2 linked regions of the Homo sapiens genome follow. The protein of the gene in region 1 purifies or fractionates together with the protein of each later gene. This does not show direct contact. Each region holds a gene or a part of one and is shown on either strand. Other genes may lie near its edges. The genes, in order: C9orf152 and SEC24D.

Region 1 (4,552 bases):
GCATGTGCCACCATGCCTGGCTAATTTTTGTAGATACAGAGTTTCACTATGTTGCCCAGGCTGGTCCTGAACTCCAGGGCACAATCAATACACCCACCTCAGCCTCCCAAAGTGCTGGGATTACAGTTGTGAGCCATTGTGGCCAGCCTACTGCCATGATGTCTACTGCCATGATTTCATGGCAGGTGCAGCTGGTCCAGCATGGATGGGTTGCTCTTGCCTTCATGATAGAGTGATCTACCGATAAAAAGGTATGAGGAAGCTTTGGCTATCTCTCTCGGTATTTTTTTGAGACAGATTGAGCTCTAATCCAATGTGATTGCTGTACTTATAAAAAGGGGAAAATTGGGCACAGAGACACCCACATAGGAAGAACATCATATTAGGCCGGGTGTGGTGGCTCACGCCTGTAATCCCAGCACTTTGGGAGGCCAAGGCGGGCGGATCACAAGGTCAGGAGATCGAGACCACGGTGAAACCCTGTCTCTACGAAAAATACAAAAAATTAGCTGGGCGCGGTGGCGGGTGCCTGTAGTCCCAGCTACTCGGGAGGCTGAGGCAGGAGAATGATGCGAACCCGGGAGGCAGAGCTTGCAGTGAGCTGAGATTACGCCACTGCACTCCAGCCTGGGCGACAGAGTGAGACTCCCTCTCAAAAAAAAAATAAAATAAAAAAATAAAAAGGAAGAACATCATGTCAAGATAAAGGCAGAGATTAGGCAATGTTTTTGCAAGCCAAAGAATACCAGAGATTGCTAGCAAACCATCAGAAGCAAGGTGAGAGGCATGGAACAGATACTCTCACACAGCTCCAAGAAGAAACCAACCCTGCTCACACCTTGACTTTGGACTTCTAACCTCCAGAACTCTGAGACAATAATGTTTGTTGTTTAAGACATCCAGTTTGTGGGATTTCGTTATGGCAGCCCTAGCAAAACTAACATATACTACCCAGTGAAGATTTGCTCTCCATCTTCCACGGCTCCCCCACATCAAATGACTAGATCTTGTCTGGTTAATGTCCAAAATGTCTTGTAGGTTCAGGCTCTACTCTGTTTCCATTGCCTCTGTAGACATATTGGGTAATTGGGTAATCAGTAAGCACCGTGATAGGAGAAGATAGAAAGGGACTTAGTTGACCAAATGCAGCAAGGCTAGGTCAAAGCTGGTGTAAGAGGGAGAGGGTCTGGGATTCAAAAGCAATGTGGAAATGTTGAGGCTGGCAAGCAGAGAGTGAGGGGATGCCTAACTTACCACTTGGTTGGAGAATGCTGAGACGGCAGAGGCTGCACCAAATGTCCAAGGGGTAGGGCTGGCCCGAGGCCAAGATTCCCCTGGGCTCTGTCCCATGGCTGACTTTAGGGCTGAATTTTCACCTGGGGTGTGTGTTGGGGTCTGAGTGGAGATCTTGGGGAGATCTTTGCTACTGGGTTTCTTTAGGGTGTGGCCGCGGGGCACACATCCAGAGGCACCGACCTTGTGAAGCTCCCGAGGGTGTTCTTTGAACTACTGCAAACCCAACCGGCAGGTTTGCTGAAAAGTGGCCACGTTCCAGTCCAAAATGTGTGAGCAGAGCGCGAGCTTAGCACTCCCCAGCCCCAGTCCCAGCTCTGCCAGGAAAGGGGAGACTTCACCGTGGCACTGGGAATTGGATTCTAAACTTTAGGATCAAGCAATGGAAGGACCTGGAATAAGACACCTTCTTGACCCCCCTGAAGGGCTCTGAGCAGCTGGGCTTGCCTTTCTCTTTGCTCCCCCAGTCCTCCCCTTACTTCTCGGTCTCCCACTCCCCATCACTCCTTTCCCTGCCTCCTCCTGCCTGTCTCCATCTTCCTCCCTCTCTTTCTTCTCTCGCCCCATTAATCCCCGCTTGTCACTATCACCTCCTTCCTCCAGTCTTTCCCCCTTCGCTGCCCCTTCTTTCCTCTGACATTTCCTTCTCCTCTTACTGCCACTGTCTCCCACCTTTCTCCTCCCCCACATTTCTCCCTATCCCTACCTCCTCTTCCCCTTCATCTTTCTCCTTCCCCCTTATTTTTCTATCTCCTTCCTCAGTCCCACTCCTCTTTCCACCCTCCTTTTGCCCGTCACTTCTCCTTCTCCCTCACTGCCCCCTCCCTCTCTCTCCCCTCCCCAGGTCCTGCCCCACCCAGCTGTGTTTGCTTTTCTCCCGGATCCGGATGGAGGGGTTGCCCTGCCCGTGCCCAGCCCTGCCCCACTTCTGGCAGCTTAGGTCTCACTTAATGGCTGAGGGCTCCAGGACTCAGGCCCCTGGGAAAGGGCCCCCACTCAGCATCCAGTTCCTGCGAGCCCAGTATGAAGGCTTGAAGAGGCAGCAGAGGACCCAGGCCCACCTCCTGGTGCTTCCAAAAGGTAGGAATGGACAGGTGCTGGGGAAGGAGAGACTTACCATGGGAGACCTGAGTGGCAGAGCTGCAGGGAGGCAGAGCCAGGGCTTTGCCAGCCCTCCCTCCCAGTGGGGAAGAGCAGGGGAGGCGGGCTCAGGGCAGCTCTGCTCAGCTGTCCCACCTGCTAAGGGAGCCAGGGGCCTCAGCCAAGCACCTGGCTGCCAGCACTGTTCCTGGCCTCTGCTCTGATGTTCTAATCTTGCTAGACTGGTCAGCCTGGTGAGCCAGGCTTGGCCCCCCTGCTAGCCCAGGTATGGCGATAGGAGCTCTGCTTCCTGGCTGGGTCTAACTAAGGCACCTCCTACAAACCAGAGAAATTCACTCTGGAGGTAGAAGACATGGCGTTCCCAACAGCCTGGGAACTGTCTGGGCCAGAGGACGCCTAGGGCTCAGAGACCCATGAGGCATCCCAGGCTCATCCAGCCTCAAACATCAGGCAGGGAGGTGTGATTGGACACAGAAACCCCCTCATGGGGAGAAACCTCCTCCCTTTAGGAACTCAGATTTCATTCCAGGAGGGAGTTAGAGGCACAGGGCTCAGAAAGCAAGGGCATGTCAAATCCCAGCCCTTCCTCCTCTAACAGAGGAACAGGTTGAGGGAGAAGGGAAGATACCCTGAAAGGTCAAAGCTGGGCTCTGTGGGATTCTGTGGTTATTTGTAGAGTTCAGTAGACTCTTTGGGCTGCCCTTTGCCAGGCCAGACTGGGCAGGAATCAGGGGCCAGAGGGACCTCTCTGTCTAGGGCAGGAAGTGTGCTGCCTTTTGGGAACAAAAGTGGCACCTCTGAGCTGAAGGAGCCCATCTCCCATTACCTGGGCTGTTGCCAACCAATGGAATCCTCGTTCCTGGCAGGAGTGAACTGGCACAGCCAAACAGTCACCATCTCTGCAGGGCATAAACTGAAAGGTTCCTAAAGCTCTATCCCACCCTTGAGGGTATTTATTCATTCAGTTATTCAACAAACATTTATCAATTTAAATCCCTATCAAATGGAAACACAATGCTTAATACACCTGCAATTCAGACTCACAAATCTAATTGCTTAGTGGGGATGATCCAAAGACATCTCAAATTCAACATGCCCCCAGAGAATTCACTATACCCTGTGCTCGTCCTTTCTCCTGCTCTTGGTAACTCGGTACCCCCTTTCCCATCATTACTAGGTGCTAAATTATGGTTCATGCAAGGAGTGCCCAGGTGTGGCTTTCTCCGAGAAGACTTCTGACCTCCCAGCTAGGTCAGGGTCATTCAGGGCACTTTCAGCAGTTTGCAGTTCCACATTTTTTTTTTTTTGAGACAGATTCTCACTCTGTTGCCCAGGCTGGAGTGCAGTGGGGTGCAATCTCGGCTCACTGAAACCTCTGCCTCCCGGGTTCAGGCAATTCTCCCTGCCTCAGCCTCCTGAGTAGCTGGATTACAGGCACCTGCCACCATGCTCGGTTAATTTTTGTATTTTTTTTAGTAGAGATGGGGTTTCACCATGTTGGCCAGGCTGCTCTTGAACTCCTGACCTCAGGTGATCCACCCACCTCGACCTTCAAAAGTGCTGGGCGTGAACCACCATACTTGGCTGAGTTCCACATTCTTTATCTAACTGTGAGAGGCAGCATACTGTGTAATGGAGTGGTCATGTACTGGGTCTTGGAGCACAGCCTGAGTTTGAGTCCCAGCTCTGCCATTTACTTAATATGCAGCTTTAAACAAGTTACATAAATTTTCTGGGGCTCAGTTTCCTCACCTGTCAATTGGGAATAACTGTAGTACCCAAATCATAGGGTTATTGTAGGAATAAAATGAACTAATATGTATAAAGCTCATCAAGGCCTTATGCACTGACTGGCTGAGGACAAGATCACGTATGTCACATGTATCTAAGTAGGAAGGCCACTTGAAACACTAGCACTGAATGTGAAGGAGTAGGTAATTATCCAGGGAGAAATCAGAGTAAGGTGACAAAAATAAGGTGAAAATGGCACTAAGGAGGCAAAAGAGCAATTAATTGTCCCCTATACTTTAGCAACAGGATAGATGGTGGTATCTTTCCTTGAGAATACAGGAGAAAAAGGCTTTTTGTGGAGAAAAAGGCTTTTTGTAGAGAGAGATGAACTTGTTTTTGAATATACTGCATTGGAGATAGTTGCCTG
Region 2 (3,815 bases), on another chromosome or scaffold:
TGATGCTTAGACCCTTATTATGGTACATGATCATGCCCTCTGACACATTGGGTTAATGGACAGAGACGATCTCTAATGTTAGACTAAACTTGCTTATCCATACCATGATAACTATGAAATAGAATGGGCCCAAGGTGGAATTTTCTTTGGCTTTCCTTGAGAAATTCTACACTAAAGTTTGGAAAAGGTAGCAATCCAGCCCGTAAGAATTCAGGACATCAAAAAATGACAAATTGGCCTGTCTTTTTTTCTGTGTGTACAATTCTAATATTCTGAAGGTAAATCTGGCCAATATAACCTTTTGCTGTAGGTAGGCCAATGTTCTCCATTAGTTAGATCATCATATTTAGTCAAGAGGAGACCATTAGCAAATGACTTGAACAGATTTAAATGCTATTATTCTTGCTGGGTGGTCTGAAGATAATAGCAACTTGTTCTTTTTTGTTTGATTATTTGAAGAGATCAGTGTCTGAGCTAAAACTCATGTCCTTTTCATTGTTTTGTGATGTAGCTTTTAAAGCAGTTCTCCACCAGCCTTTGAAGGTCATCCGGGAAATTCTAGTTAATCAGACTGCCCATATGTTGGCATGTTACCGGAAGAATTGTGCAAGTCCTTCTGCAGCAAGCCAGGTGAGCTACCTATTGCACATAGATGTTAAAGTGTTACAAACGACTACTCATTTCTTCAGCACATAGCTATAGAAGGCTTATGATGTTGCAGGCACTTAGATGCTGTTACAGTAAACAGTGTAGCTGAGAAGATTAAGAATGCAATTTGGGGGGGCTGTGGTTTTTTTTTTTATAGCCAACATTTAAAAATGTGAACAAAAAAAATGGATGTGCATATTCAGTTGACAGTCACTACGGTATGTATAAACAAAAGAATGTTATATGTAAGAAGTGTCCTAATATAAACAGGATTCTGTTTTGTATCCAGAGATGGGTATTTTGTTATGAAATGTGTATGCTTAAATACATTTTAGGCATATTAACAAAGTTGACATGAGCTGATGGCAGTAATAACATTTTATAAACAAATATAATTTATAAATATAAATACAGGAATTCTTTACATTTAAAAGTTATTAATAGGTGTGAAGAGTTTTCAAAGAATTGACTCTCTCCATCATCTAGTAATTTGAAATTTTAGAAGATTCTTTGAATAAACCTCATTTAGTCTCTCTCCTATAAAAGGAAAAGCAGAACCTCAAGTCCACATTTATTTTGCATTTGCTCTCTTGTTCACATTCTTCTCTATGTCAATAAAAGTTAGATGGCATTTTTTATAGCTGTGTATCAAATATGTGAATATAGAATTCCAACTAAAATAGCAATAGATGGGAAAACTTTCTAGTTCATTCATTGTCAAAAGTGAGTGCTGAGAGGACATCTGAAGCCCCACCTAAAAGTAAATCCTCAGCAGGAAAGATAATGCAGATAAATTTTGGGTCCAAATTCTTAATCTGGGCAAAGAAAGAAAACAAACACACTTACTAGATGGATTTTTCATAAAAGTTCCTTTCCATGCTGTCCAAAGTGATTAAATTAGTCATCCATTCTTTTATCTCTTCTGTTGATAATCATATAAGCAACTCCTGAATCTATATGAGTATTCAGTCTTCTTTATTATTCAGAAGATTTGCCATTTTAGTCAACTCAAATATCAGTACTATTTCATAGCATGCTAGTTCAGGTTACACAAAGCCCACCAGGTACACCTGGAATCTAGCCAGAATGCAGTCCAATCATGAGCACTTTAAACATTTACCTCATTTTACTATTTGTCTTAGAGCTATGGAAACATTATTCTGTTTCTGGAGTATCTCACACTTCAGGAGCATTAGTTGAAGCAGTACAGATACAGTTAGTGTCCTCTCTGGACATTCATTTGTTAACTTTGAAACAACTGGATTCAAAGACCTTAAGTTAAAAACAAACTTATTGCCTATTTATGGAAGAAAAACCTGTTATTTTATTCTGGTTTAAAAGTTAAAAGCATTGCCTCTACCACTGGATAACCTGTTTGCACAATTAAATGATTTCCGGAGTTAAAACATTATGATTATAAATTTTCTCTGAATAAGTTGATAGGAGATTATTCCTGTTCTTATAATGAGGTTTTTCCATTAGCACTTTTCAAGTGTGCCTTTCAACCAATGATATGTTTTTAAAAAATAATGTAACTTAAGTACCTTATGATTAACCATCATGGAGTCTAGAAAATGTGGAGATTCTAAAACAGTATTGTCTGAAAACATAGAATAGTTGGACTTAATGTTCTCTTCAGAAAATCTAACTGTAAACTTGGTACTTTCCTACAGTTCACTTGTGAAAAATAATATCTATGAAGATGGAGAGATTCCTAAAGGAATTCCACTATTTTACCATAGAGCCCAAAGTTTCCTTGACCCAAGCAAGACCATCAAGGAGCTATCTGGATTGTATGATACTGGACCTCAGTAGAACTACTTTTACTGAATTGCTGGAGCCAAAACTAGGCTGCAGCAAGAGAAGGCAATTAGGGTACAAAATCTAAGGAAGCTGTCATTCTGAGGATCATATGATAGATGCTGGGTTAAGACATATGGCTGGGCATGGTGGCTCATGCCTGTAATCCCAGCCCTTTGAGAGGCCAAGGCAGGTGGATCACTTGAGGTCAGGAGTTCAAGACCAGCCTGGGCAACATGGTGAAACCCCACATCTACTAAAAATACAAAAACAGCTGGGCGTGGTGGCATGGACCTCTAATCCCAGTTACTTAGGAGGCTGAGGCAGGAGAATAGCTTGAACCCAGGAGGTGGACGTTGCAGTGAGCCGAGATCATGCCACTCGACTCCAGCGTGGGCAAAAAAAAAAAAAAAAAAAAAAAGACATATAACTAGAAACAAGATAAATTAGGCTGGGTGCAGTGGCTCACACTTGTAATCCTAGCACTTTGGGAGGCCAAGACAGGAGGATTGCTTGAGGCCAGCAGTTGAAGGCCAGCCTGGGCAACATATCGAAACCTCCACCTCTACTAAAAATAAAAACTTAGCCAGGTGTAGTGGTACATGCCTATAGTCCCAGCCACTCAGGAGGCTGAGGCAAGAGGATCCCTGGAACCCAGGAGCTTGAGGATGCAGCGAGCTATGATTGTGCCACCATACTCTAGCCTGGATGACAAAGTGAGACCCTGTATCTTTAAAAAAAAAAAAAAAAAAGCAAACTTTAAGGCTTATAAGGCTTACATAAGCAATGTAGATTCTTTTAATTAAATCTAATATCTCACTGTTCTGAGCTTAAATATATCAATATCATATGGGAGTGCATTCATTTCAAAAGGCAAGTCAAATGACCTTAACTGCAAAATAAGCTTTCTTTTTAAAAAAGAAAAACAAAAAAAACCTCATTACCACTTCTGTCACTTTAAAACCTAAAGAAGGAAAGAATTTTCCAAATTCAAGCAAGCTCGACTTATATGAATTACTGCTCCCACCTCACTCTCATTCTTTACTCCCAAAGAATAATTTAGTTATTTATGGAGGGGGTCAGTCGGGTGGGGAGATTTTACAGTGGTAATCCATGGCCACATTTTCTTCCTCACCTCAAAAACATTGAATAAGATTGTCTTCTTGTTTTCTTTCATTCTTTAACTCCATTTTTTTGGTTTTGTTTTCATGATTAGATTTTCCTTCTCATTTACCACCTGTTTTTCTTCCCTCTGCCTTCTATAATCCAATCTCCTCTGATTAGACTTTTTAGTCCCAATAGTGTCATTGTGGGCCAACCTCACCCCTTTGTGGTATTTAGGATCACAGATTTCTGAACTCTTAATA

Evidence for each region.
Region 2: the proteins of C9orf152 (region 1) and SEC24D purify together in Homo sapiens (affinity purification with mass spectrometry; one large-scale study listed by BioGRID and IntAct). This does not show direct contact.

Annotation. Positions count from the first base shown.
Region 1 is NC_000009.12:110,205,208-110,209,759, reverse strand, and holds the start of C9orf152 (uncharacterized protein C9orf152), read left to right. Parts: upstream 1-1,600; 5' UTR 1,601-2,180; coding exon 2,181-2,373; intron 2,374-4,552.
Region 2 is NC_000004.12:118,735,076-118,738,890, reverse strand, and holds part of SEC24D (protein transport protein Sec24D), read left to right. Parts: intron 1-511; coding exon 512-630; intron 631-3,815. UniProt on the Homo sapiens protein: Component of the coat protein complex II (COPII) which promotes the formation of transport vesicles from the endoplasmic reticulum (ER).